Regions from separate parts of the Homo sapiens genome. Here all the other regions are reported to be linked to region 1. The links are microRNA targets in miRTarBase. Many come from high-throughput screens and were not tested one by one. Region 1 holds a microRNA gene; each other region holds the end of a gene's coding sequence.
What was found. Region 1 holds the annotated microRNA hsa-miR-619-5p (GCUGGGAUUACAGGCAUGAGCC, at 2,394-2,415, opposite strand). A microRNA usually pairs through its seed, bases 2 to 8, with sites in the 3' UTR of a target mRNA and lowers its output. Matches are read on the target gene's strand: a 7mer-m8 pairs with bases 2 to 8, a 7mer-A1 pairs with bases 2 to 7 and ends in A, and an 8mer does both.

Region 1 (5,076 bases):
GGGTGCTTAAGCATCCATGGATTTTGTTATCCTCGGCAAAGGCGGGGGTCCTGAAACCAATCCCCTTGGATACTGAAGGAAAGACCACCCTTAGTGATAGGAACCTAGGAACCCAAGTTCCCTCATTTCCAAATCGTGTTCCCTGACCCACTTATTTACTAACTAGTGGTGAAGCCATCTTCCTGCCAGTATATTTTAACTTCACAATGGGATGTGAGGGCCAGGATGCACATGCTTTTTAAATCTCCCTCTGTGCTTGACATACAGTAGATTGAAAGTAAGTGCTGGTAGATACACTGGCCAAGCTGTGCTCTTCTCTGAAGTCAGTATTCCAGGAGTAACTCACCCTGGTCATCTCTGTGCCCTGGGCACACTGGGCACTCCCCACACACAGGTTGAACCTGGCAAATAAGACTCACAGCATCATGCCACGTGCGAGTTAAAGCCACCTGGAGGTCAGGTCAGGTCTTCCTGACAACTGAGTGCTTCAAATAACACAACAGCAGCTAAGTTCCCCACATCACCTTGAGTGTCTGGAGAGCTAGGCCTATGACTTCTCTGTCTCAGGATCCCTCTCAGTGCCCAGAAAACAGTGGACATCAATAAATGTAACACCAATAACATCTTCGTTGAGCGCTATGCTAAGCACATCAGGTATGTTAACTCATTTATTCCCCAGTGTCCATCTCTCAGTGTTTTATACATACGGGAACTGAGGCTCAATTAGCCGAGCGTGGTGTCGTGCTCCTGTAATCCCAGCTATTGGGAGGCACAAGAATCACTCGAACCCAGGAGATGGAGGTTGCAGTGAGCCGAGATTGTGCCACAGCACTGCAACAGAGTAAGACTCCGTCTTAAAAAAACAAAAAAACAGAAAACAAAACAAACAAACACTGAGGCTCAGGGAGGTTAAGTCACCTGCCCAAGTTCATGAGACCAAGGAGCCGGGAAGCAGGAAGGGGAAGGCAGGAGTGTAACTCTGAAACCTCTGCTCTTAGGCACTGGCTTTCAGCTGAACTGATACCTCTGGAAAACAGTCTCAAAAAAGTCCACTTCTCCTCCCAACAATTCAGACCTAAAAACCATTTGGCGGGGAAGGGCAGGGCAAGCTTCTGAGTTGGGGAGGGGGTGTGGGATCCCAAGCTGAGGTGTCTGTTGGCAAGCAGGGTGCAAAGGGCATCTGTGCAGGGAGGGGGCTGCAAGGGAGACAGAGACTGCTCACAGGCAAGGAATGAAATATTAAACATTAATGTTAATATTAATATTTATAATTAATATATTTATGATATATAGCATATATACATATTATATTAATTAATTATAACTATATTAATATAATTAATTATAACTATATTAATATAATCAATTATAACTATATTAATATAATCGATTATAACTATATTAATATAATCGATTATAACTATATTAATATAATCGATTATAACTATATTAATATAATCGATTATATTAATATTAATATAATCAATATTAACAAATATATACTATATAATATAAATAATACCTAAGTTTATATAATATGCATAATGTTAATATTTATTAATATTTCAGGGACAATGGGAGTCATGAATATGGAGAGACAAAACTAGAATGAACCCCAAGGTGCTGCATCAGAATTGAAGGTACCAGTCTGAACTCATAGTTTTCAACCTATTGAAATAAATATAGATGCACGTGTGTGTGTATGCACGTACATACAAATGTTCCCTAATTCTGCCCATTGAGAGGCCTGTGGTTAGCAACACCCCAACAGCAATAAGCAGACCTAGCTTGGCTCCTAAATTTCATTTTCCACTAAAAGGAACCAGAGCCCCTTGGATAAAGGACTGATTCCACAGGTGGGTAGGGAGCATCTGTTGCCAGAAAGCAAGAAAGCACTTAAAGAATGATGTGGACATGTCAAAGGGACACAGAAGCCAGCCTGGATGAGATCCCACTGGCCCTAACTGTCCACAAGGACAATTTGAGCAAGGATGTCAACAATTTAAGAGCAGATTATAAACCACTGAATAAAACAGAAAAATACAAAGAATTGAAACGGACATTGATGGCAGACAGGATATTAACATAATTTTAAAGTATCTCTCCAAGGAATGCTTCTGAATGATGAAGGGGAAAAGAATAACTGTACAGTGGAAAAGCCTGGTAAAACCCACCTTAGTGACCAAAGTGAATGTCACCATAGTGGGACAAAAGGAAATCAAGTGCCACCTTATGGGATTCAACGAGGACGCAGCATCCCTTGGGTGATGTTCCAGCCAAATACACGTGCCCGGTGGAATCACACAAGAACATCAGACACACTCACACTGAGGGACACTCTGCAAACTGACAGTACTGGGCACAAACATGTCCAGGTCATGGTCGACCGCAGTGGCTCATGCCTGTAATCCCAGCATTTTGGGAGGCTGAGGTGGGCGGATCACTTGAGGTCAGGGGTTCGAGACCAGCCTGGCCAACATGGCAACACCCTATTCTCTACTAAAAATACAAAAATTAGCCGAGCGTGGTGGAGCATGCCCGTAATCCCAGCTACTTGGGGCGCTAAGGCACAAGAATCGCTTGAACCCGGGAGGTGGAGGTTGCAGCGAGCTGAGATATCACCGCTGCACTCCAGCTTGGGCGACAGAGTGAGTTTCCAACTCAAAAAATAAAAAAATAAAATAAAATCCAGGCCACAAGAGTCAAAGAAAGACTGAGGAAGGTTCCAGACTGCAGGAGAGCCAAGAGACAGGATAACTAGATGCAATGGGCAGTCCTGAATTGGATCTTTTGTTATGAAGGACAACGCTGGGACATATGGTGACTCTTGAATGGGGTTAGAGGACTAGACGGTGGGAATGCATCAGAGTCAGTGTCCCGCGTGGATGGCTGTGTTGCGGTTCTGTGGGAGAATGCCCTGGTCTGTATTCCAAGGGTAATGGAGTAGCAGGTTGACAAATTACTTTCAAATGGTTCAAAAAAGAAAGTTCTTTTCACTGTACTTGCAATTCTTATGTAAGCTGGAAATTATCTCAAAATTAACGAGAATTTTTTATCGACGTAGTATTTTACATATTTATGGAAAACATGTAAGTATTTGTTACATGCATAAACTGTGTAATGACCAAGTCAGAGTATCTGGGGTATCCATGACCTTGAGTATTAATCATTTGTATGTGTTGGGAGCATTACAAGTTTTCGAGTTACCAATTTTTTTTTTTTTCCTTTGAGACAGGGTCTTACTCTGTCGCCCAGGCTGGAGTGCAGTGGGACGACCACGGCTCACGCAGCACAGCCTCCACCTCCCAGGCTCAAGCGATCCTTCCACCTCAACCACCCAAGTAGCTGGGACTACAGGTGTGTGCTGCCACCCCCAGCTAATTTTTTAATTTTTTTGTAGAGACAGGGTCTCACTATGCTGCCAGGGCTGGTACTGAACTCCTAGGCTCAAGAGATCCTCCCACCTCGGTCTCCCAAAGTGCTGGGATCATAGGCATGAGCCACCATACCCAGCCAAATTTTTTAAAGTTATTTTTTAAATCTCCACTTAATTCGATTTTGGTAAAACACGACCTGTAATTTTTCTTTATCGGTAGGTAATAAAAGCTTCAGATGATTTTACTGATCACTGGTATGGGCATATTTCATGACTTTGCCCTTTCATCTCTTGCATAGTTTTACCCTCACCAAGCAAGACCTTCCCTGCCTCAGCACTGTTTGCCCTCTTCGTGTTTTCCAGAACAGAAGTGGCCCTGTTTCGTGCCCAGAGCAGAAGAGAACGATGAAGAGCTCTGCTCTCCCAGGTCTTCCTGGTCTGTGTGTGTCCAGGTTTTGAGGGCCTCTCACATACACGGCTCTGGACCACGTAAGATCTAATTTTAGCATTTTCCTGCTCGGAGACCACATGTTTGGAACAGCAGGGGCTGACCTGCCCGTGCAGGCCTCCTATTGTGAAGGGCACGCGAAGCCAGGATACCGCAGCCCTGCAGGATGTGACTCAGCATCCTGTCTCAGTGCTGGGGCGGCCAGCAGCTCTGGCACCAAGTGCTGCTGCTGACCTCACCTCTTAAGACCACAAATACCCAGGGTAATTGGTGGGATAGGCATGCAGCATCAGCTCTCCCTGTTAAGACAACTTGCTTGTCCATCCATTATGCTGGGCTTCCTTGTGAACACCACAGGTATCTATCAGGAAGAGTTCTTCCGAGGAACTGATCTGCTGGTATTTTCAGGACACCAAGAATCAAGAGATTGGTCTTGTTTCTCTCTTTGCTTTGACTACCAGGAAACTCAAAGTCAGATCTGTGGCCAAATTCTGGTAACCATACCAATGCTATGTCATGTATTACATGTACAAACCTTCCCCTTACTTCATCTTATTTTCTTCTGCTTTCTTCGTGTCCCGATTTTCTCACTAATGTTACATTCTATTGTTCTCTATGAATGTTGTAAGGTGTTTCAAATCCTTTTTGGAGGGCACTACTGTAGATACAACACACATTACCCCTGAGGGATAAGGACTCTTTTTGACTCCACACAGAATCCCTGGCATTTGGCAAAGAACCCATATTTAGGCACTAAATACACATGGGCTGAATGGAAAAAGCCAATAGCTAAGTAAAAACCACCTCCATTACCATATTGTTTCACAAGAGGTTCTTTTCCCTTCCATCTCATGAGGTGGGGCCTGGTCAGGAGTCCCCAGGGCCTGGGAATTAGGTTCCTTAGGGAGCCTTCTTGCTGTAGGGGCAGCCAACAGGTCAGTGGCCTTGACTCCAGACCTAAAGAGCCACTCCTAGACTCCCAGCTGCAACAGACACAGCGTGGCACGGGTGGGCCTGGCCACTGGGGAAGTGACAAGTGATTTCCAGATGCTGCAGCCAGCCTGGCTCTTTCCAGACCACACTGAAGGCCCCTTCCTGTGGGAATTCTGATGGGGCCCAGATTTGGGGAAACACGCCTCGAGGACTCTTGGCAAGTGCGTGCCAGGCCTGGACCAGGAATGACTTCTGTGGGCACAGGGAGAGACCAGGCATTTCCTAACACAGGACCTTGAACAGCCTTCTCTGAAACAAA
Region 2 (5,076 bases), not on the chromosome of region 1:
GGGGACAGGCCCTTCGAATGTAAAGACTGTGGGAAAGCCTTCATCCAGAGCTCCAAGCTGCTTCTGCACCAGATTATTCACACTGGAGAAAAGCCCTATGTGTGCAGTTATTGTGGGAAAGGCTTTATTCAGAGGTCAAACTTCCTTCAACACCAGAAAATTCATACTGAAGAGAAGCTCTATGAATGTAGTCAGTATGGGAGAGATTTTAACTCAACTACAAACGTTAAAAATAATCAAAGGGTTCACCAAGAGGGACTCTCCTTGAGTAAGGCCCCCATACATTTGGGTGAGAGGTCTGTAGATAAGGGGGAACACACAGGTAACTTATAAAATAATTACTTTCCCGCCCAGTGAGTGATGTTTGGAAATGCGTGGAATTAGGATTCATGTGGTTTCTAAGATTTGGACATGTCAGAATTTTGTGAGTCATGGATGGGGCTGCTTTTGCAGTGGGTGCCACCTGCCACTGTGCAGCCCTACTCGGCTCAGCCCTTCTCCTCAGCTGTGAGCACTGTCCTCAGGAGAGTCACAGGGCTTGACACCTGACTCTGAGCTGGAACAGTAGGGGCAGGGAGAAGACAGGTCTCAAGAAAAGGTTTTTAAGAAGTTTCATCCCCAGTTAAGCAGAGTCCATCCTTGACTTAAATCCCTTATTACAGCACAACTGTGTATCTAATCTTACGATTTAGGAGAATGTTACCTAGGACATTTTGATGTGTTAAGTTGAAGAAAGGTAACTCGTGTATGAACCCCGAGCCATTTCCCTGTTGTCCTGAGGAGGAACTCCAGGCCTCCCATCGTGTGCCCTAAGGCCTCCTGCGTCCTGGAGCCCTGCCTCCCACTGCCTGACTTCCTGCCACACGGTTAATGCTGCAGCAACACCGACTGCTTCATCTTCCCTGTGCTCCACGTGGCTTCCTACCTCTCTCGCCTTTGTTCTTGTTGAAGGGTCTCTTCTCAGCTAATTAACTCTGAATCATGGTTCAAGACAAGCCTCAGGCATCATGTCAATGGGTGTTTCCCTCAAGCTTAGTTGGCAGCACTCTCCACACTTCTGTGGCTCAGTGATTACTGCTATTACTATATTTACTTGCATATGTCAGAATGATGTGATAGACTATCTCTGTCACTATGCTGTTGGGTTCCTGAGGACAGTGATCATATCTGATTGATTTCCATGTGTCCACTGTCTAGCACAGGGCAATAAAAAATACACCCCTAAATCTATGTGTAATTGGCATCTCTCTTGCTTTGTCCTTTCTATACTGCCATTCTAAAAATTTTCAGCTGTTGGCTGTTTTTTTTGTTGTTTGTTCATTTTGTATCAGTATAATCTACGATTCTGTTAGAAGTATCTTCTCAGCCCTGCTACTGTCTGCTGCTCCTACTTAGAAGTTGCAGGCAATATCCTGTGCACATCCACGCCCTCCTGTGTGCCACCTTACAGCTCATGCAGAACTGTCTACTTGATCTGGAGGGCATTGACACCTGGCTCAGCTGGAACAGTGGGGACAGGAGGAGGCAGGTCTCAAGAGAAGGTCTTTACTTACTTGTCTGTATCTTTCTGTCTCACTCGAAAGGCACAGTCTCAATGCGCTACGTAACTCTTCTGTTGTAGCAGTTCTGAGGTTGAACTGAGCTCTTGTCATTTTCCATGCTCTCTGGCTCATTGTGTCATTTCAAAATGTATTGATATCTATAAGGAATAGTCCTCAATGTTGGGAAAACAGATGAGCAACCCACTACCCTGAAGTCATCCACCGTGTAGTGGGGAAGACGGAGATCACAGTAGGGTGAGTTAAGTATGTGCCCTCAGGTGTGAAGGAGCACAGGTGAGGGGGTGCCTGCTGTGGCACAGAGCTGGGAAGGCCTTACAGAAGAGGTGACATTTCAGCTGGGCCAGAGATCAGTAGAGAGCAGCTGAAGAAGAAAATAGGGTCCAGGAGAGGAATCTGCAGAAACATGGAGCCATGACAGATGGCTTTTTGGCTAGGACTGTTCGAAAGCAGGCGAGGTAAATGGACAGTGGACAGCCGCCTCGCCAAACTGTTAGTCTTTACCTCTGAATTTCATCTGGACATGAACCCCAAAGTCCAGTTTTGTAACGATATAATTTTTTTCTCATGAGGCCATATTTTGAGTTCTTAAATACTACCAACCCTGAACGTCTCAGGACAAATAATTCAAAAAAGAGATCTACATTTTCTGGAAAATCAGCATTACTAGAGATGTTTCAAATGTAGATTTTACCAGACCATTTTAATCAACTTTATTGAGATTCAATTTTCATATAGTAAAACGCCTATTTAAGTGTACAAGGTTTTGAAAAATCTATACACCTGTGTAACCACCACCACCTGTGTAACCACCACCGCCAGAACCAAAAACGTTTCTGTCACCCAAAGAAGTTCCCTTTTGCCTTTTCCTAGTTAAGCCCACTCCAGCCCCAGATAACCACTTTCTATCCTCATAGATTAGTGTTGCTTGGTTTAGAGCCTCATACAAATGGATTCATTTACTATGTGTTCTTTTGCGTCTGATGTCTCACTTTGGCATGTTTTTAGACTCATCCAAGCTGTTTTGTGTTTCAGTAGTTCTCCTTGCTGAATAGTATTCCATTGTGTGGATAAGCCATCATTTGTTTATTCATCCATGTGTTAATGGGTTTCCAGTCTCGGCTCTTAAAACTATGAGCATTTGTGTAAAAGTATGTATTTGCACATGTGTTTTTATTTCTCTTGGGTAAGTACCTAGGACTTTAATTGCTGTGTTGTAAGTGTCTTAGTTCATTCAGGCTGCCATAACAAAATACCATCAACTGGGAGGCTTATAAACAACAGAAATTTATGTTTTACAGTTCTGGAGGCTGGGAAGTCCAAGATGAGGGTGTCAACATTTGGTGTCTAGTGAGGGCCTGCTTCCTTTTAAGTAGATGTCTTTTTACTGTGACTGCACGTGGTGGAAAGGGACTAGCAAGCTTACCCCATTCATGAGGGCTCTCCCCTTGTGATTCTGTCCCCTCCCCAAGACCCCACCTCATATCATCTTATGGGTTAGGAATTTGACATGAATTGTGCAAGGATGTAAACATTCAGTCCATTGCAATACGTGTTTCTAACTTCCTAAGAAATTGTCACACAGCCCTCTGTAGTGGTTGAATCATTTTACACTATTACTACATTATGGGAAGATTCCAGTTGCTCCATATCTTTGCTAACACTTGGCATTGTCAGTCTCTTAAAATTTAATCCACTCTAGCCTCCTTATGATTTTAATTTGTATTTGCCCACTGAATAATGTATGTCTATGATTTCATCTGCTTATTGCTTTTCCGTGTCGTCTTTTGTGATGTGTCTGTTCGTGCCTTTTGCCTGTTTTTAAGTTGGGATGCTTATTGTTGACTCAAGTTCTTTCCATATTCTGCATGAAAAACATACATGTAATATATAGAATTCTTTGTCTCCATTTGTGACAAATATTGTGAATATTTTCATGTTTGGTTTGCCTGTTCATTTTCTTAATGGTGTCTTTTGAATATTTTTTATTAAGCCTAATTTATCAAAGATTTGGGTGTGGTGGCTCATGTCTGTAATCCCAGCACTTTGGGAGGCCAAGGTAGGCAGATCACCTGAGGCCAGAAGTTTGAGACCAGCCTGGCCAACGTGGTGAAACCCCGTCTCTACTAAAAATACAAAAATTATCTGGGCGGGTGGCACACCCCTGTAGTCCCTGCTACTCGGGAGGCTGAGGCAGGAGAATCACTTGAACCCAGGAGGCAGAGGTTGCAGTAAACCAAGATAATAATAATAATGATTTATGATATTTTATAATAATTTGAGTTTAAGAAATTTGCCTACTCAAAGGACATGATTTTTTCCTATGTTTTTTATTTTTATGGAACTTTTATAGTTTTACCTTTTACATTTAAGTCTGTGATCCATTTTGAGTTCATTTTTGTGTACCATATGTGATAAGGGTCAAGATTCACTTTTTTATCTGTGTGGTTGGTTGGTTCGGTTCTATTTGTTGAGACTCTACTTTCCCAATGACCAAGTCTTCACAGGTTTGTAAAAACTGAAGTGACATAGAAGTGGTCTGTTCTGGACACCATTCTTCTTGTGTGTATAACTTTACACCAATATGACACTATATTGATTACTGTAGTTTTATTTGAGGCAGAAATCTCATTCTGTTGCCCAGGCTGGAGCGTAGTGGCACAATCACAGCTAATGTAACCTCGAACATCCGGGCTCAAGTGAGCCTCTTTCCTTAGCCTCCCAAGTAGTTGGGACTGTAGGCATGCATCACCACATCTTGCTAATTTTTTATATTTTTTTGTAGAGATGGGGGTCTCACTATGTTGACCAGGCTGGTCTTGAACTCCTGGCCTCAAGGGATCCTCCTGCCTCAGCCTCCCAAAGGGATTACAGGTGTGAGCCACCACTCCTGGCCAACTGTAGTTGAACTCAGGTATTGGAAGGGCTTCCGTTTTGTTCTTTTCCCATTTTTTTTTTTTTGACTTCTAGATCCTTTGCATTTTCGTATAAAATTTGAAGTCAACTTCTATCAACTTCAGGCCAGGCCCGTGGCTCATGCCTGTATAATCCCAGCACTTTGGGAGGCCGAGGCAGGCGGATCACTTGAGGTCAGGAGTTCAAAACCAGCCTGGCCAAGATGGTGAAACCCCATCTCTACTAAAAATACAAAAAAATTAGCCAGGCGTGGTGGCAGGCGCCTGTAGAATCCCAGCTACTCGGGAGGCTGAGGCAGGAGAATTGCTTGAACCTGGGAGGTGGAGGTTTCAGTGAGCTGAGATCGTGGCATTGCACTCTAGCCTGGGCAACCAAGAGTGAAACTGTCTCAAAAAACAACTTTTATCAATGTCTGCAAAAAGAAAGTCTTCTGGGATTTATAGATCAATTTAGGGAGAAATGACATTTTAACAATTCTGAGTTTTCCAATTGTTGAACATGGTGTACTGCCCCATTTATTTAGATCTGTTAATTTCTCTCAGTTTGCAGCTCTCACATTTTGTTAAATTCATGTATTTAATATTTCTGCATGCTATTGCAA
Region 3 (5,076 bases), not on the chromosome of region 1:
CGGTGAGTGCGGGAAAGCCTTCAACAGGATCTCATCGCTGACTCAGCATCAGAGGATTCACACCGGGGAAAAGCCCTATAAATGTGAAGACTGTGGGAAATCCTTCTGCCAGAGCTCTTACCTGATCTTGCACAAGAGGACACACACCGGAGAGAAGCCCTACGAATGCAGTGAATGTGGAAAGGCCTTCAGTGACCGTTCCTCTCTCAACCAGCACGAGCGAACTCACACGGGCGAGAACCCCTATGAATGTAAGCAGTGTGGGAGAGCCTTCAGCCAGAGGTCTTCCCTTGTGAGGCACGAGAGAACTCACACTGGAGAGAAACCCTACAGGTGTCAGGAATGTGGGAAAGCCTTCAGCCAGAGCTCATCCCTTGTCACACATCAGAAAACTCACAGCAGCCAGAAAACCTATAAAATCATTGACTGTGGGAAAGCGTTCTACCAGAACAGACATCTTATTGGATATTAGCAATTGCACGCTGCTTTGTAAGCCACTTTTTAGTACTCTGACACATACATGTGGTTATCTTTTGCCCTGTTGTGATGGATAATTTGAAAAGAAGTGGGTTTATGTCACCTTCTCACCTTCTTATAAGAAAGCTCTGAGAATGGGCATTTTTGTATTTTGTTGTTGTTGTTGAGATGGAGTCTGCCACCCAGGCTGGAGTCCAGTGGCGTGATCATACCTCACTGCAGCTTCAACTTCCTGGGCTCAAGTAATCCTCCCACCCCAGCCTCCCAGGTAGCTAGTACTATAGGTGTGCACCACCACGCCCAGCAAATTTTTAAATTTATTATAGAGTGGGAGGCAGGGTGCGGTGGCTCATGCCTATAATCCTAACACTTTAGGAGGCCGAGGCGGGTGGATCATGAGGTCAGGAGATCGAGACCATCCTGGCTAACACAGTGAAACCCTGTCTCTACTAAAAATACAAAAAAGTAGCCGGGCGTGGTGGTGGGCGCCTGTAGTCCCAACTACTCAGGAGGCTGAGGCAGGAGAATGGTGTGAACCCGGGAGGTGGAGCTTGCAGTGAGCCGAGATCGCACCACTGCACTCCAGCCTGGGAGACAGAGCGAGACTCCGTCTCAAAAAAAAAAAAAAAATTATAGAGTTGGGGTCTTGCTACATTGCCAAGACTGGTCTTGAACTCCTGGGGTCAAGCATCCTCCTGTCTTGGCCTCCCAAAGTGTTGGGATTAGAAGCATGAGCCGCTGTGCCCAGCCTGACGGGGCCTTTTAGTGGGAGGAGTTGCCATTACACTACGTCCAGTAAGCTCCAGACTTTCGGAAAAGATTGGTGGACGGGAATGCTGTCATGGATGGGATCTTGCCAAGAACCATCACGTGTTAATTTAGTTGCTTAAACAAAAGGTGTTCTGTTTCTTAACTACTTCTGTGTCTTTACTTTTTATTTCATTGTTCATTGTTTTTATTTTAATATTCTTTTCTGGGTTTATATGAGACGAGTTTTCACTCTGTTGCTGAGGCTGAAGTGCAGTGGCGTGATCATAGCTCCCTGTAGTCAGCCTTCATCTCCTGGACTCAAGCAATCCTCCCACCTCAGCCTCTCCGGTAGCTGGGACTACACATGTGCACCGCTACCACACCCAGCTAAATTTTTTTTTTGTATTTTTGTAGTGATGGGCTTTCACCAGGTTGCCCAGGCTGGTCTCAAACTCCTGAGCTCAAGCAATCCACCCACCTTGGCCTCCCAAAGTGCTGGTATTACAGGTGTGAGCCACCGTGCTGGTATTACGGGTGTGAGCCACTGTGCTGGGATTACGGGCGTGAGCTGCCCATGCTGGGATTACGGGTGTGAGCCACCGTGCTGGTATTACGGGTGTGAGCCACCGTGCTGGGATTACGGGCGTGAGCCACTGTGCTGGGATTACGGGCGCGAGCCACTGTGCTGGGATTACAGGTGTGAGCCACCCTGCTGGGATTATGGGTGCGAGCCGCCGTGCTGGGATTACAGGTGTGAACCACTGCTCCTGGCCTTTATTTCAGCATTCTGTTTCAGTGTTTCACATTGGCCACTTAGCTAGATCCGTTTGTCTTCTGCAGTACTGTGCTGATCCAGAGTATATGCTAAGACGGAAAGCGCTTTGGAGGTAAAGTTTAAAAAATACAAGGGCTTCAAAATAGTACTAGTAATTTGATCCATTCACAAAAGGACAAAGGCTGGACAGAGACGTGAAGAAATGAATCATTTACGCAATGATTGGGGTGTTCCAATTATGTGTGATTTTGTGTTTTCTGCCGTTTCATTTTGTATTGCCATAATCATTTTGACAATGAATACAAATCAAATAGCACCCAAAATTGTGAAGGATACGGAACCTCATTGATGAGTCAGGATAGACTGTGGGTACCTAGATGGTAGAGACATAGTATAGTAGACTTTGGGACATAGAGGGTGGAATGACCTTTGGTGGCCTGGGAAAAGTCCCGCCTGTGAGATGTCCCTAGCAAAATCAAGACCAGGAGTGCTGATGTGCATTATCGTCATGAACATGTATTGGATGCTTACTGTATACCAAGCACCAGCCAAGTACTTCCATGTGGTTCTTCATTTAGCCCTCACGACCCCATGAGATAATCACTATTCACATTCCATTTTACAGAAGACAAAACGGAAATAATTTGCTCAAGGTCACACAATTAGAAAGGAGTAGAATCTGGGCTGGGCACAGTGGCTCACACCTGTGATCCCAGCACTTTGAGAGGCTGAGGTGGGTGGATCACTTGAGGTCAGGAGTTCGAGACCAGCCTGGCCAACATGGTGAAGCCCCATGTCTACCAAAAAATACAAAAATTAGGGAGGCCGAGATGGGCGGATCACCTGAGGTCAGGAGTTCGAGACCAGCCTGACCAACATGGAGAAACCGCATCTCTACTAAACATACAAAATTAGCCGGCATGGTGGTGCATGCCCGTAATCCCAGCTACTCGGAGGCTGAGGCAGGAGAATCGCTTGAACCCGGGAGGTGGAGGTTGCTGTGAGCTGGGACAGTACCATTACACTCCAGCTCTGGGCAACAAGAGTGAAACTCTGTCTCAAAAAAAAAAAAAAAAAAAAATCTGGGCGTCGTGGTGCACGCCTCTAGGCCCAGCTATTCAGGAGGCTGTGGCATGAGAATAGCTGATGTTTCAGTGAGCCGAGATGGTGCCATTGCACTCTAGCCTGGGTGACAGTGAGACTCTGTCTCAAAAAAAAAAAAAAAAAGTAGTGGACTCTGGATTTGACCTTGAGCACCCTGTACAAAGCCACACCTCATTTGCCAGGCCACCAAGCAGGGGAACTGTTTTCCAAATGTTCTCTTGGAAAGCTGGGTGTAGTGGCTCACAACTGCAATCCCAGTATTTTGGGAGCCTGAGGTGGGAGGATCACTTGAGCCCAGGTGTTCAAAACCAGCCTGGGCAACATTGACCCTGTCTCTGCAAAAAATACAAACATTAGCCAGGCATGGTGGCTCACGCCTGTAGTCCCAGCTACTCTGGGGGCTGAGGTGGAAGGACCGCTTGAGCCCAGGAGGCTGAGGCTGCAGTGAGCTATGAGCATACCACCGCACTGCAGCCTGAGTGACAAAGCAAGACCCTGTCTCAAAAAAATTTTACAAATTTTCTCTTAGGACTCATCTAACTTTCCTGTGAATGTTCCCTTTTTCCTTGAGCTAATGAGGGAGGTTGCCCGTCAGATCTCCTTTCACCCAAATGGAACATGTTGCTTTTCCTTAGAGATCCTTGATCCATGGTCAGTCTAGACCCTATTGGGTTGATGAGTAAGTTTCTTTAGGGGCTCTGTGAACAACTTTGAGAACAACTTTGTGTGCTGGTGCATTGATGTGTTTTTTGGGGAAAGCATCTGTAACTTCCAGCATATTCTTGAGAAGGGTTGACTTAGAAGTCTCCTGACTGTACTGTTTTCAGTCTTGTTATCTCCCTCCAGCAATTATATTTTATTTTTTGAGATGGAGTCTCACTGTGTTGCCCAGGCAGGAGTGCAATGGTGAGATTTCGGCTCACTGCAACCTCTGCCTCTGGGTTCAAGCGATTCTCCTGCCTCAGCTCCCAAGCAGCTGGGACTACAGGCATGCGCCACCACGCCCGGCTAATTTTTTTTGTATTTTTATTAGAGATGGGGCTTTCACCATGTTGGCCAGGCTGGTCTCAAACTCCTCACCTCAGGTTGTCCACCCACCTCAGCCTCCCAAAGTGCTGGGATTAGAGGCGTGAGCCACCGAGCCCGGGCACACTATTTTTAACTGGAAGCTGCTTTCCTATGTCAGTCCTCTAAACATTAATTTTTATAAAAGTGTGTAAAACCTTCCTAGGAAAGATAAAAATAAATTTTAAAAATTGTTTCTAAATGAAATGTCAATATCAGAATTTGAACAACCACTTAAGCTATGGAGTTTTCTGAAATGAATAACCATTAACTGTGTTTGGTTTTCAGCCCCTGTCTATTAAGTGTATTCAGTGTTTTCAGGCCTATCACAATCGTTTTTCCTTTTTTTAAAAAAAATTGAAGGCTGGGTGTGGTGGCTCACACCTGTAATCCAAGCACTTTGCAAGTCCGAGGCAGGTGGATCACCTGAGGTCAAGAGTTTGAGACCAGCCTGGCCAACATGGTGAAACCTCATCTCTACTAAAAAAATAAAAATTAGTAGGCCAGGCGTGGTGGCTCACACCTGTAATCCCAGCACTTTGGGAGGCCGAGGCGGGTGGATCACATAAGGTTGGGAGTTCGAGACCAGCCCGACCACCACGGAGAAACCCCGTCTCTACTAAAAATACAAAATTAGCCAGGCATGATGGCAGGTGCCTGTAGTCCCAGCTACTCGGGAAGCTGAACCAGGAGAATCGCTTGAACCTGGGAGGCAGAGGTTGCAGTGAGCCGAGATCTCGCCATTGCACTCCAGCCTGGGCAACAAGAGCGAAACTGCGTCTCAAAAAAACAAAAAACAAAAAAATTAGCTGGGTGTGGCGGGGCAGGTCTGTAGTCTCACCTACTCGGAAGGCTGAGGTACGATAATCACTTGAACCCGGGAGGTGGAGTTTACAGTGAGTCGG
Region 4 (5,065 bases), not on the chromosome of region 1:
TGAAGTATTAGTCTTTCTGTGAAATAGATATAATCCAGTGTAAATATTTAGGGGAAATGGTTCTAAATTTACAGACAGAATCTTGTTTTTCTTTTCACTATACTTACAGGCACCAGCTTCTGAAAAAGAAATTGTGGAAGTAAAAGAAGAAAATATTGAAGATGCCACAGAAAAGGGAGGAGAAAAGAAAGAAGCAGTGGCAGCAGAAGTAAAAAATGAAGAAGAAGATCAGAAAGAAGATGAAGAAGATCAAAACGAAGAGAAAGGGGAAGCTGGAAAAGAAGACAAAGATGAAAAAGGGGAAGAAGATGGAAAAGAGGATAAAAATGGAAATGAGAAAGGAGAAGATGCAAAAGAGAAAGAAGATGGAAAAAAAGGTGAAGACGGAAAAGGAAATGGAGAAGATGGAAAAGAGAAAGGAGAAGATGAAAAAGAGGAAGAAGACAGAAAAGAAACAGGAGATGGAAAAGAGAATGAAGATGGAAAAGAGAAGGGAGATAAAAAAGAGGGGAAAGATGTAAAAGTCAAAGAAGATGAAAAAGAGAGAGAAGATGGAAAAGAAGATGAAGGTGGAAATGAGGAAGAAGCTGGAAAAGAGAAAGAAGATTTAAAAGAAGAGGAAGAAGGAAAAGAGGAAGATGAGATCAAAGAAGATGATGGAAAAAAAGAGGAGCCACAGAGTATTGTTTAAAACTGCCCTATGTAGTTTCATAATTTGGTAACATGTACCTTCATGTTGTAAAGTTAATAGAGATAAATATTTTTATCAAAAATTTTATAAACACAGCCTTTCTTTAGCATTGATTTAATTTCAGAACATCTTCATATTGATTATTAGCCATAAAGTTTCTAACATGAAACATTTATCTATAAATTTTGTGATTATAGTAGTGGAATACATAGAAAAAAATATGCTTTCAACTTTGTGAGTGAATTTCGTGTTGTGTAAGTTATATGTCAAATCTTTGAATTTTAATTTTACTCTTTTATACATGTGATAATTTCATAAAGTGAGGGATCCCAAAAAAAGAGTTTCATCCAACATTCTTGTTCTGCAGGTTGCTTTTATAAAGAAGGTGAACTATTTTCATGTAATGTTAAGAGTTAAACTTATCTTTCCCAAATATAACTTTATTATTAGCTTGGGAAAAATGAAATTGTATTCCCATTTTTAAAATAAATACAAATGTTTATTTCAGAAGGGCAGTTTTGATTATATGTGAATACACAAATTTTACTGGATTTATCTTAATAAAAAGACTCTGACGATGATTGTGTTTTGTTATATCTTCAAAAATATAGCTAGTGAAATATTGTGCTTAATTTTTTTCTATTGTGTTATTCATGAAAATATTTAATATTCACTGACATAAAATTAATATAAAGTAAAATTCACCATTTTAATTATAATAAAAATAAAGTATATAATTCAATGGTTGTCAGTATATTCACAATGTTGTGTCCACTGTTTAATTCCAGAGAATTTTTATCACCCAAATAAGAAACAAAGCACCAATTAGCAGTCTCTTCCCATTTTCGCCCAACTTATCCCCCACCTCCATCCCTTGGCAACCACTAATCTGCCTTCTATCTCTATGGATTTGCCTATTCTGAACATTTATTATAAATGGAATCACATAATATGTGTGTGGCCTTTGGTATCTGGCTTCTTTAACTTAGCAAAACGTTTTCAGGTCAATCTCCATTGTAATTTGTATCATTACAGCAGGTCTCAATTTTGTTCAATGCTGTTTGGTTATAATTTTGATGAGAAAATAGATTCCCAGCTGGGGCCACTGTTTGTGGAGTTTGCAAGTTCTCACCATGTCTTCATGAGTTTTCTCCAGGTAGTTCAGTTTCCTCGTACATCCCAAAGAAGTGCATTTTAGGTTAACTGGCATGCCTAAATGATCCCAGTATGAGTGTGTGTGTGTGTGTGTGTGTGTGTGTGTGTGTGTGTTCCCTGTGATGGACTGGAGTCCTGTCTAGGATGGGTTCCCGCCTTGCCTTCTGAGCTGCTAAAATAGGCTGCAGCGATCCACTACTGTAAACTGGAATAAGCATGTAAATAATTATCTTGTTCTTATTGTTCTTAATTCTATGCATAGCTTATATTTATTTCAGTGTTTAATATTAGAAGTATTTTAGTCTTTAGAAGTTTGGTGATGCTGTAACCAGAAATATTTGGTAGGAACTTAACTCTTATCTATTTCAATTAGCCTGTTGGTAAAATTGGTTTCCTTATGTGTCGCTTAACTTAAAATTACAGTTTCTAAAAATCTGTCAACGATGTTAAGTGAGGACTTACTGTACTTTATTTCTTCTAATGCCTGAATAATATTCTGTTAATATACCACATTATGTTTGTTGATGGGCATTTGGGTTTTCTCCATGTTTTTTCAATTATAAACAATAATGCTGTGAACATTATTGTGCAAGTTTTTTTTGTGGATGTATTTTCTCATTTCTTCTGAGTATATATCTAGGAGTGAAGCTATTGGATCTTATAATAGTTCTATGCATAAATTTTTGAGGAACTTTTGGACTTTTCCAAAGTGGCTTCAGCATTTTATATTTCTACTAGAAATTTATGAGTGTTCTAATTTCTCCACGTCCTTGCTAACACTTATTGCATGTTTTTTATTACAGCCATTCTAGTAGGGTGATTTGGAGGTGATGCAAATCATATGATCTTGATTTGTATTTCTCTAATGATGTTGAGCATCTTCTGATGTGCTGGTTGGTCATTTGTATATCTTCTTTGGAGAAATGTCTATGCAAATCATTTTCCATTATTTAATTGGGTTGTCTCTTTAGCATTGAGTTCTAAGATATGTATATCTTTTACATACAAGTCCCTTGTCAGATATATGATTTGCAATATTTTTCTCCCATTCTGTGGTTTTCGTTTTCTTGATAGTGTCCTTTGATACACAAATTTTTAATTTTTATGATCAATTCATTTTTTTCTTTTATAGCTTATATTTTTGGTGGTATATCTAAGAATTTTGTCAAACCCTGGGTTACTAAGATGTACACATATGTTTTCTTCTAAGAGTTGTATACTTTTTTCTCATACATTTAGGTCTTTGGTACATTTTGTGTTAATTTTTGTATATGAAGTGAAGTAGGGATCAATTTTCACTCATTTACATTTGGCTATCCATTTGCCCAAGTATCATTTATTGAAAAACACTATTCTTTCCCCATTCAATGGCCTTGGCACCTGTGTCAAAATCAATAAACCACAGATGTATGGGTTTATTTCTGGACCCTGAATTTTGCAACATTGACCCATGTCAATCTTTGTCAGTACAAAAATTTTGATTACTGTAGTATTACAGTAAGTTTGACATCAGAAGTGTCAGTTCTCCAACTTTGCTCATTACTTCAGGTCTCTTGCAATTCCACATAAATTTTAGGATTAGCTTGTCCATTTCTGCAAAAACAAGGCAGGGAGCAGTTGGTGTTTTGACTGGGGTTGCAATTAATATGCAGATCCACTTGGGGAATATTGCCATTTTAACAATACTAAATCTTCCAATCCATGAACACAGTATGTCTTTCCGTTTATTTAGGTTCTCTTTCATTTCTTTCAGCAATAATTTGTATTTTTTGGTGTACAAGACTCCCACCACTTCCTTGGTTAAATTTATTCCTATTAATCTTTGCTGGTGTAAGTGAAATTCTTAATTTCCATTTTGAATCATTCATTGGGAGGGTATAGAAATGCAACTGATTTTTGTATACTAATCTTGTATTCTGCAATTTGGCTGAACTTGTTTATTAGCTGTAATAGGCATTTTGTGGAATTTTCAAGGTTTTCTATTTTACAATTATGACATCTGTGGAGATAGTTTTACTTCTTCCTGTCCAATTTTGATGACTTTATTTTTCTTGCCTAATTGTCCTGGCTTTAAAAAGACTTCACAATATTAAGAATAAAAAAGGAAATACGCAAAATGCAAGAGGTCTAACTTTCGAAACACAGACCTCTGACTCTACTTTTTCCTGGGCTGGCAAGTCCTTTACCATTTTACACCCTCTCTCAAACTTTGTACAATGCTACAGTTATCAAAACCAACCCCAAAGATCAGGTTGAACTTCTAGGCACCTTGCTTGGATCCCCTGCTTCCTAGCCACATTGTGCAACCACAGAGAATGGATTCATATAACATTCAACAGAGAAACTAGTCTCTTAAACACCTTGATGCCATTCGTTATCAATGCGAAATGAAAATAACGATCTTGGCTTCCTCTTTAGAAACATATTCCAGGTTTCTAGCAGAACTGTGGTAATGGATTATCTTGAGTTTTCATGTGAAAGCTTGCTTTCTACAGAAGGAGGGTAGTCAGCTTCCCTGTGCAATGTTATTTTAACTACATGATAAAGCCCTTATATAGCAAGAATACTGTAATATACTAAAACAGGGTCATTTCTTCATACTATATTATTACAAAAGTAACCTTTCTTCCTCAGGTCTTATTTTGTCTCTTGATGTTTAATTGGATTCTACTTTCCCTTTACCATCCAAACATTGCCTCACACAGTTTCTCTCCTAAAAGCCTCAGCAACTGCAAGATGTGGAGGGAAGAGTGGGGTAGGAGTGGTGGTAATTTATAAAAACAGTACACCATCACTGTAAGTGAAAGTGAATGTACATTACAAATCTACTGTAGTAGAACACTCTTTACCAAGGTTGGAGAGAAATAGCCAATGGTACCAAAAAATCTATAAGGAGCACCACACGGAAAAGTTGTTGAAAAAGGACTTTTGGTGCCTCTTTAGTAATATGAGACATATTTTTTTAATTGTCTCATTTGCAACATAAGTTTTCAGTAACATATAATGCTGACTTAGACAATAATTGATTTTCTGAGTATATACTGCTGAAGTTTTAATCTAAAATTTTCTGGTGACACTATAAAGTGTTTACCCCTAAGCTTTATTTTGTCTGGTAGGGAGGCATTCCTCAGAGTCAACAGTTTTCTAATGGGAATAACCTCAGAAGTCATATTGTAATTAGATGCGAAAGTATGATTCTGTTTATCGTTTATTGTTCCT
Region 5 (5,076 bases), not on the chromosome of region 1:
CAGACTAACCAATTTTGAAACAACATAAGTTTTCAAATAAAGGGATGGGAACTCTTAAAATCAAAATCTAGACTGGAATAAATACCAGATTATCAGTAAGAATCTGGTCTTTATAGGAAATATATCTCAAACTGAATTTTCTGCTTCCTTTTATTTAGCTAAAAAGTAATTATTGTAGCTTTAGTAAACTTCAAGTCTTTAAATTTCATGGGCAGTATTTTTTACTGTTAAAAAAAGTGCTTTTGTGCAAAGCTTCAAATCTTCAACTCTTTCAGGGATAACTGAAATTTTTGCTTAAAAAAGAAAGACACTAAAACAATGTCAAATCTCATTCTAAAAATACTACCTACATTTTAGTTTGGCATCTGAAAAATGATGCCCACATATGCCCACACCAAATACAACGACAAGCTGGCCAACTTCAAGGGCAAACAAAACCAGTCTGAACACTGCAAAACATGCTTGCTCTTATATTTGCACCTTACTAATACAGCAATGAAGTTTGGATAGGATACTGGAAGTGAACAGGGATTTCATTAGGCTTTTTTTTTCCTGTAACATTTACTTTTTGGCCACAAGACCCTAGACACAATTTCACAGTACAGATCATGCATAGCTTGCAAGTCAAACGTTTTACAGGTACTGTCTAACTACTATTTTTGGACAATAGGTTAACATGCAGCTAATGATCCCAGAAAAGGGGCTTAATAAAGCATTCTTTAAGCTTCACTGATCATTCCTTGGCCTAAAATCTATAAGCAACAGTTCCAAAGGGCAACAATGAATTTTTACTGTCATACTTGAGATCACATACTTTTTAAGCCCAGAAAGGAATGTTTTGCCTTTTGCCAACTGCATGTCACTAGCCCACAAACTCTCACCTTAGCCTCACTGTTACTCCATTAATACCTTGATGCTGGATCCCCAAGCGCTATCACCCAGAACTGCATCGTTCAATATGGCAGCCACTAGACACATAGGGCTATTTAAATTTAAGCTAATTAAAATTAAATAAAATTTGAAATCCAGTTCTTCCCTTGTAGTAACCCCATTTTAACTGCCTAAAAGTCAATGTGCCTGGTGGCTACCGTACCAGACGGCACAGGTTTTCGAGCATTTCCATCATCACAGAAAGCCCTATTGAACAGTGCCAATCTAGAAGATCTCACAGGTTATACCATCACATGGTTTAACCTTCAAGGGACCCAATCTGTAAGCCATGCAAAAAATTAAACTTAATTCTATTTTTAAAGAAAACATCTTAGAGCTTTCTGATCATTAAGTATGACTGGAACCAAAAACCAAGTTGCCTTTTCATCACAACTTATGCCCCAAGTCATTATACAAAATTTTTCCAAAGACAATGCTTCTTAGTAGCATTCTTGGCTCTACTTAACATATTAAGCATTCTCTTCCTTATTTCAAGATCATTAATAAAGATGAAAATTCATGCTTCTTATAGTTTACTATTTATACAACACTCACTGTCCTTTACATACAAGTGGGGTGGGAGGTTTGGACACCAATGTTTTACAATTTTAAAAATTCAAACCACATGGTTTGATAGTTGTCTTTCAACATCTATACTCATCCCTAAGTCAACCCTCCTTTCATTTTCCCAGAGAGGTAGATGCTAACTAAAATGAGTACATAAACCTACAAAAAAAATTCTTTAAAGCAATAGTTGACTCAGTAAAGGGTATTCATCAACCCTAGAAAGGATCATAGCCAGATAGAGATATAGACAGACCTAGGATGGAGCAAGAAGACACTGCAGTGCGAAGTTCATATCCCCCCCTTTCTGCAGAATTACAAAACGGACTCATCTACAAAATGAAGCCACCGGAGGCTGCTTTCAGCTCTTTCTGTGCTTTCCAGTTGTGACTTTTCATTAATGTGCAAGTATGAATCCTGGCCTCTTGTGTCAGTGGACTTTGGTCACATGGGTAGATGTGTTTGTTAAGGGTCATTGGTAAATGCCAGAAGAGGCCAGAGCAATGGGATGCCAAGCAACATTAAAACATCATTAAGCCTATAAAATTCTATCTGGGAGACTGAGATTCTCTCTCTCTCTCTCTCTCTCACACACACACACACACACACACACACACACACACACATACACAAGAATGCACACCCCAACAAACAGGTACACAAATAACTGCAAGCAGATCCATTTAAACAATTTAAACAATGTTTCTTAGGTCAGTAAGACTCACAAAAAAAATCTGATTTTGGTTGTTGTTGTTAAATTTAAGGTCAAGAATCTACCATACAGCCGATTAATTTTGCACTGCTTAATGGCAACTCTAGCATGGGATTGTTTTTAAGTAAAAGTTCTATGGACATTTTTACTCTACAGATTTGCACTAAGAAACACAGGACACTATCATCACACACATTAGTGTCTATATCTAACCTACTTTAACAAGTAGAACTCTATCACGTACTATACTACAGGGTCAGTCATTTCACACTGTACAGAAACATATGCAGATATCACTCACAAAATTAATCTGAATATGGCATAGCTTAAAATTGCAAGGGCAAAGTCTATTCGAAATGTAGCATTCTTAATGCAACACTTCTGTGGTGTGTGTGTGTGTGTATTTTCCTCCAAGAGAAATAGAAATTAGGTCAGACATGCATTATGGCAGCCTGGGAGAGTTTGAGAAATTGACACTAACCCAACAGTATATTATGTTATGTAATAGAGGATAGTATTCAGCTAATATGACACCTAAATTATTAATACCAAATAAATCCTAGATTATTTGTTGTATAATGCCCAAGAGCTTACACAATAAAATGGCATTTTAACCTAATTTCTATTTTGAGCTTTCAAATACATTTCCTAAAGGTTTTATGATCAATTTGAAAAATCAGAGCTCACAATTTTATGTTGAATTCTCATGCCAATTAGCAGTATTAGCTTTGTATTCTAGCCATTATATTTTTGTTTTATTTCACATTAATTCCATCACTTTTATATGCATATTTTGTGCTGCTTGAAGATAACAGACAGCATGTAAATAAATTAAATTGTCTTGACCTCACAGGGCTATTTTCTAGCCTTGCTTTTTGGAATTAGCCCTGCTTGTCTTTCCTTCACTTCCCCCCACCCTCCTCACCATTTTCAGGGATTCAGTGGAACATAAAAACAGTTATATTTATAAGTGGAGTCCTTGTCACATACCACTTGCTTCATGAATTCCATAAAAGAAGTTAGATGAGAGCTGTAAAGCTCACAGCTATTTCTGAATGCACATGCACCCAGGGATAGGAATTTATCACGTACTTGTAGCAGATCTTTCTTCATGAGCATCTATAGATCATTACACATTTAAGAACATTTGACAGTTTATGAGGAACTGGTCCACTTATATTGGGAATTTGAGCTGTTAGTTTACCTTGCCACCTTTCTTGGTAAAAACGTGTTAAAATACAGGAGATCTTCTCTCATATCAACAAGAGGAAACAGGAATTCTAACTGGCTTAACTCTTGTGGAAGAGCATCTTTCAAAAAAGAATCACAGGCCATTTATTAAAATGCCCGCCTGGGTTGACCATCAGTCACAACACTCATGGCCAGTGCAAGACTCCAAAACCAGGAGAAAAGACACTCTTCTGTTACTCTCCATTTGCCTCTTACAAAATGCAGGACTTAAATACACAGAAGAGGAGCGAGTGTTGCAGGTGACGTGTAGGAGACCACTCGCTGGGTCAAGATGTCCAAGAAGTGGCCACCGCTTCAGAGACTTGACTCATTCATGCCCAATGAAGTCTTCATCCCAGGATTCTTCAGCAAAGACTCAAACACCTGAGGTAAATCAAATTAGACACACACACATACACACACAAATACACAATATTTACATTTGAAATTCTTATTTTGTGAGATGGCTTGAGGAAAATCGGCATACAGGTTTTCCCATGGGATTAGACATTTCTCATGATTTCTCGGTTTATTGCTCCCCTGTTGAGCTTTCAGTTCCATAAACACGTAGCAAGCTCTAATTACAAGTGAAGAAAATGAAGGTTCATGACAAAACACAACACATTGGAGACACTTGTTCAAATATTTCCTCCAAATAAAATGACTGTCCATTTTGACTTATTTTGTTTTGGTGCCATTCAAAATGTATTAAAAGCCTTAGCAACTAAATGAAGACTGGGTTTCAATAAAAAGAAAAAAAAAATAAAGAAGCCAGCAGTGCATGTCTTCACTGAATTTTTACACGGATTCGCAGGTTTAATTCTACTTGTCTACAGAGCATCTTTGTTTGAATCTACCGCATTTAGAGAAGGTCACATTGTACGCACTTGTACAGTTTAACGTCTAAGTAGAATATGTCTATCTTGTAACATGATTTTGAAAAATCATAAATTACAGTCCATTGAATACATGATTATGAGGATGCATGCAATCATCTTCCAAGCTGTTGCCATCAACACTCAGAACAATTCACCTGGTATCTTGTTGAGACCGCACCTTCTGCCCTTTGTGTCTGTCTTGGGGTAATCAAGAGGCAACCCAGAGGCCAGCGCTCAGCACCAAATGGTCAGTGTTGCCCCCCATCTTCTCACTGGGATCTCATCATCAACCTGCTCAACCCCTAAGTTGGCACCCACAAGAGACTTCCCTGCAGCCCTCTTCAGCCACAGGATATCACAGTGAAGCGCTTAGAAATGCAAGACATGTTGTGAAGCACGATGCCGAGGAGGAAGACCAAGACGCAAGCCACCAAGATGACAGTGCACACCCCCGACCAGGTGGAGCTTTTCACCACGCCCCGCCTGTCCTGCTCCTCCTCCACCGCCTCCTGGGGAGCCCCACCTTGCAGAGGCTGCTGTTCAGCAGGGATGGTCACCACGGTGACGGACTTCTGCTGGCTCCCGGGCAGCAGGCGGCAGCCCATGTCTCCGGGCAGCAGCGCACGCTCCTTGGAGATGGGCAGGGGCAGCATGTAGCACCCATTGCTGGGAAGTTTGATGAAGACCGGGGTGTGTTCGGAAGTGTGTGGAATGGCGATGACAGCCAGGACCTCCGGGTCGTCCGGGAGCTGCGACACGGAG
Region 6 (5,071 bases), not on the chromosome of region 1:
TATGCAATCAGGTGAGGCTCCCAGAGGTGTTGGTCCAGCTCTCTCCTCCAGGCAGAGAAGAGAACCAGCCTCGCAAGGACTGGGGAGGTCATCCCAGCAGCTTGTCAAAAGTCAGCCTGCTTATTCAATGCCAGCGACTCTCAAGTGCTTCTGAGACTGCTCCCTGTGGTCCTTCCTTATATTTTCTTTAATGCAGCCCTCTCTTTATTCATCTTTTATAGAACACCCATCTCGGCTTTCTCGCAAGATAACATCTATGAAGTTCAGCCCCCAAGAGTAGACAGAAAATCTACAGAGATCTTCCAAGCCCACATCCAGGCCAGCCAAGGTATCATGCAGCCCCTAGGAAAAGAGGACTCCTCCATGTACCGAGAGTACATCAGGAACCGCTACCTGTGAAAAGAGCGCAGGTCCACCTGGTGGACACGTCTGATTAGCTTAGAACCTGTCTTGTCTCATCTTCAAAAGGTAACTTATTAAAAGTCCTTTGCGTCTGAAGCCTTTCTCCTTTTCTGTCACTTGCAAATTCCAAATTATAGCTAATAAAGATGACTAGATAATTTGCTGTTGTTGCCTTTGCTTTATTTTAGAAATACTTTGTTTACAAATGTGGTCAATATACTATCACACCATCACATTAAGAAATTCACAGGTATCTGCTGAGCACCTGCTGTGTGCCAGGCACCATGGCAAGGTCTAGGAACATCCCAGTAAGCAAAACAGGCCAAAAAATTCCTCTCTTGTGAGGAATGAAGGCAAAGTATTTTTCTTATCTTTATCCGTGAAAGCAAAGTATTGTTTCCTTGTAGTTAACATTTTGACATTTATTCTGGTGGCTTCTATGTTAACTTTGTATTTTGATCAGAAATTTCATTATTCTAAAAGGCCTTGTTTATAGGAAACAAATGCTGAAATATTTATGGATAAACGGACAAGATGTCAAAAAAGTGTTCTCCAGTGGTTCAGGATAAAAAGAATGAATGATAAATCAAATGGAGCAAAATATTAATAACTTGTAAATCTAGGTAAAAAGTAAACAGGAGTTCTTTGAGCTACTCGTGCTGCTTTTCTGTAAGTATAAAATTATATCAAGGCTGGGCACAGTGGCTCACGCCTGTAATCCCAGCACTTTGGGATGCTGAGGCGGGGGGATCACCTGAGGTCGGGAGTTCAAGACCAGCCTGACCAACATGGAGAAACCTCGTCTCTACTAAAACTACAAAACTAGCCGGGCGTGGTGGCGCATGCCTGTAATCCCAGCTACTAGGGAGGCTGAGGCAGGAGAATCGCTTGAACCTGGGAGGTGGAGGTTGCGGTAAGCCAAGATCGGCCATTGCACTCCAGCCTGGGCAACAAGAGTGAAACCCGTCTCAAAAAAAAAAATTATATCAAAATAAATTGTTAAAATTATTATTCCAGTTGACTTCCTGTGGCATGCAGCTGCGTTACATACTTTGACATTTGGTGTTCAGTCAGGTGTTGACTGATCACAGCACGTGTTTTGTTCTCTGTATAGTCAAACATGAATGTGGACAACTTTCTGCATTTCCTAACAGTTTACCACAAATGATTTGATCTCATTATGTCTATACTTTTGTTACAGACTGTCCCATTCTCCCTCCCCATAAATAATATAGAGAAGAAAGCCAAGCCTTCTAATGGGAGAAGGAAAACTGGTTAGCCAAAATGACCTGTGAGCTATCACCAACCCTGACATGCTGGGATTCTATGGAAGGTTTTATATTGCAAAGAAAGGTTAAGTCCCCATTTGACAGATATTTTTGATTGATGCCATCATGAAGTAAAGATTAGAGAATGACAAAATAATAGGTAAGAGGAATTTTGCCTTGGCGCAGGTTGAATATCTAACACAATAGCTTGCTGTTGTGTGTGGGGGTGGGATCTCACGTAAATCTTCCCAAGTCAAAGAATAATCCCAAATTGCTGCAGAGGTGCCAATTATAGATCAGACACTGATCTTCATTTTTAAAATTTATTTTTAACATGGCTTCTAGAGGTCCACCTACTTAGGAAAAGAATGAACTTAAAGTTCTTTGAGAAGATCTGAAATCCAGATCTTCTTTCACAACCTCCCTGAGCTTAACTTTCCATAGCTGTAAAATGAGGATAATAATCCCTGCTCTACTGGCTTATTATGGCACTTAAGAGACTCTGCATGTAAAACATACAGCCATGGTTCCATGGTTCCTGGCACATAAATGATGCTGTCAATGGTAGCTGCTGTTGATGATGGCAGTGGTTGGTATTGGTGACAGTGATGGTGTCCTCAGCACCAACACCCCGATATTTTCAATTTAAGGCATCCGTGTATGTCCTTTTCAGAGTTAACACAATTTTGATGTAACAAGGTGGTATCTGAGCTATTACTTTTGACATTCAGATTACTTAACTTTGGATATACAAGGAAGGCTTTACAAATTGGTAGCAAACCAGACATAACATTTAACCTCTAGAAAAAGGTTAGTGATCTCAAGGAGCATGTAAACAAAGTAAATGCGTATCTGAAAGTACTAAAAAGCTAATATGTCATGGAAAATATAGAAACTGCTCTTATTTGTAGACCCAAAGGGAAGCAAATATGGTTAAGAGCAGGAGCTTTGCTCTCCATCACTTACTAGTAGCTGTGGGTCTTTGAGCAATCACTTAGCATCTCTAATCCTCAATTTTTTCATCTAGTATAGATAGTTGCTGAGAGAAAGAAGATACCTGTAAAGCACTGGGCATGGTGTCTAGCACAGCGTAAATATTCACTAAAAGATCACTGATCACATATAATCACCAGCACTTGCTAACCTGGTACCTGAGCATCATCTCGGAACAAGGTTATATATTAATGCTCACCATGTCCTAGTCACTGAAAAAGGAGAAGATGTCCTAGTTCAGCTTGGCATTGTAGATTTTAATTCTTTAAATAAGGCAATCTAAATGAATCTGGAGACACAGTAGGTCATAAATTGAAATCTCAGCAAATTATGGCGAGATCCCATGAAATAAAATTTTGTTGGTTGTATACCCAAGGGCAAAGCATTCACATTAAAATAACAATGTGAACTTCCTAAGGGTATGCGTGTGTGTGTGTGTGTGTGTGTGTGTGTGTGTGTGTATGTGTGTGTGATGGTGGAGGATAGGGTTGGAGGGGCATGTCTCTTAAAGCCACTTAGTATGTAAATCTAGCCACCACTACGGAGGAAGTCATGTATCATTTTGTCAAACCTGGAGATCCTTCCGTCTTGGTTGGACTTTTCCAGCTTATACACTCCCTGCCATGCTGTTGGGAAGACTGGACACATGTATTGAACAAATGGTTCTGGCATGGAAAAGCATTCATTTGTCATGAGGCAGAATTCATAGGATTGTGCTCTGTCCTCAGAGTTTAATCTTATGTTTTGTGGATCCAAATGGAAATTATTTTATGTGAAGTTCATTTCTCCATAGAAAAGTGACTCCACTTAGAATCCAAATAGACTTTATTCTTCACTTACATGTGAATAAATTAGATGCCACTTGAAAATGAGATTCCAACTTTAGTCGAAAATTGTCCTGTATCTTATTATATGTTTCACAGTAAAGCTTTTTTTCTCCAACTCACTGAGTTTTCTTCTTCCTAGAATTTACCAGATGCTGAATCAGAAGTATTTTCTCCTTTTGGAAAGTAATGTGCCTCACGATTGCCTCCACACGTGCCTTCGAGGTTAGCTGGTCAGAATGAGATTGCTTAGAGTGGCCAGAGAAGGCAAAGATGTTCTTATGTCCTGAATATGCTTTTTCTTGAAATCATGTTTTGCTCTTTTAAAATCAGTTTAAAGATACATTCTCTTTTTCTGGTTTGGCCCCCTAGCATTTTTTATATGTTCTGTTGAGATAAGTATTGCTTAAATGAATCGTTTATTGAAGGAAAAATGATCTGTTTTCCTTATTTCAAGACTTATCACCCTCCCTTTGGAAGAGACAATGGATTATTTCAGAAACTGCATGGTTCTGAGGTGCTCCTAGCATAGGTCAGTTTTTTCTATCTGCACTTGAGCAGCTTTCTTTAACAGAATTTTGAGTCTCCCTTTTCCGTTTCAGAAGTTGAGGGTCATTTGCTAATAGAGAATAGTAAGCTGTCATTTCACTCTTGCTACCCATACACAGAATTTTTTTGGGTTCATTTCTTCAGTACATTCAAGGAAACACCAATGTAATTGCAATCCAACTGGTAAATAAAAATTGTTGTCTTAATTGATCCCCCATGGGTTGAAGATTTCTTTCACAAAAAAATTACAAAACTAAACCACTTGCCTTAGTTTATAGAGAAAGAGAAGGGCCAGGAAATCAGATTTGCTAAATTAGGCAGCAACCAAGATTCTGGTCAAAAGCCAGGGAAACGTGGCATGGATAATGGGAGAGAGGAACCTCAAATGGTGTTGCCTCAAGGTTAGTTGCAGAGACAAGGAAAATGCTTTCACTTGCATTTTCTTTTCTGCTAAGAAGCAAATAAGTCCAGCACTCCTCTAACACCATCATTTTTCCTTTTAAGATGGGAATTACAATTTGAAAACAAAGTTCTCTTCTCTTGTTCCTCCCCTAACCCCCAGTCATTGTGTCTTAGAGATGATTGGGCTGGTGATTAAATTTTCCATCTGGTCCCAAGCTGGCAGAATACCTAACACAGGTGCATCCTAAAGATCCTGCACTCTGGGAACAATGGTATCCTGACCTCACCTATGGTTACAATAGCTGGATAGTTCTCTGGGTGGTTTCCTATGGGGAGGGGGTGCATAATTAAATTTGTATGTGGGCAACTTTGGCTCATGTTAAAAGAAGACATTTCTGGAAGTGTGTTGGGGAAAGAAGGTTTTTATGTGTGCCTGGCAGCTACCCTTAGTAGCTCAAGTGTATATCTCCTATCTTGTCTAGCACATCCCTTTTTTGAGGGGGTTGCCCCTTTTCCACACCAACAACCATCTGCCCTCCCTTTGACCCAGAGTCATTAGGTCAGGGCAGGAGAGTGAGATGAAATTTCTGATTCTCTCTTTCCTCTTCCTTTTTTGGAATACCCTTCCTTTAC

Region 2: miRTarBase lists ZNF623 as a target of hsa-miR-619-5p. The part of its 3' UTR that is shown has no 7-base or 8-base seed match.
Region 3: miRTarBase lists ZNF554 as a target of hsa-miR-619-5p. The part of its 3' UTR that is shown has no 7-base or 8-base seed match.
Region 4: the mRNA of HMGN5 is a reported target of hsa-miR-619-5p. The part of its 3' UTR that is shown has no 7-base or 8-base seed match.
Region 5: the mRNA of RNF152 is a reported target of hsa-miR-619-5p. Seed matches in the 3' UTR shown: 7mer-m8 at 4,587-4,593 and 7mer-A1 at 2,046-2,052.
Region 6: miRTarBase lists FIG4 as a target of hsa-miR-619-5p. The part of its 3' UTR that is shown has no 7-base or 8-base seed match.

The regions. Positions count from the first base shown.
Region 1 is chr12:108,834,569-108,839,644 of GRCh38, forward strand. It overlaps MIR619 (microRNA 619), which reads right to left and starts at 2,438; the gene lies at 2,340-2,438. The region is part of intron 2 of SSH1 (slingshot protein phosphatase 1); the gene reads right to left. RefSeq lists enhancers at 3,294-4,493, 3,798-3,927, 4,487-5,076.
Region 2 is chr8:143,651,151-143,656,226 of GRCh38, forward strand. It overlaps ZNF623 (zinc finger protein 623), which reads left to right. Exons shown (of 2, transcript NM_001261843.2): 2 at 1-2,580. The coding sequence ends at 333. Among named protein-coding and RNA genes, the nearest start is that of ZNF623, 18 kb to the left of the region's middle.
Region 3 is chr19:2,834,381-2,839,456 of GRCh38, forward strand. ZNF554 (zinc finger protein 554) reads left to right here. Exons shown (of 5, transcript NM_001102651.2): 5 at 1-2,355. The coding sequence ends at 472. Among named protein-coding and RNA genes, the nearest start is that of ZNF555, 4.6 kb to the right of the region's middle. RefSeq lists a silencer at 1-118.
Region 4 is chrX:81,110,275-81,115,339 of GRCh38, reverse strand. HMGN5 (high mobility group nucleosome binding domain 5) reads left to right here. Exons shown (of 7, transcript NM_030763.3): 7 at 110-1,641. The coding sequence ends at 691. Among named protein-coding and RNA genes, the nearest start is that of HMGN5, 89 kb to the left of the region's middle.
Region 5 is chr18:61,811,197-61,816,272 of GRCh38, forward strand. It overlaps RNF152 (ring finger protein 152), which reads right to left. Exons shown (of 2, transcript NM_173557.3): 2 at 1-5,076. The coding sequence ends at 4,656. Among named protein-coding and RNA genes, the nearest start is that of LINC01544, 66 kb to the left of the region's middle. RefSeq lists an enhancer at 5,031-5,076.
Region 6 is chr6:109,824,867-109,829,937 of GRCh38, forward strand. It overlaps FIG4 (FIG4 phosphoinositide 5-phosphatase), which reads left to right. Exons shown (of 23, transcript NM_014845.6): 23 at 222-560. The coding sequence ends at 399. Among named protein-coding and RNA genes, the nearest start is that of FIG4, 140 kb to the left of the region's middle.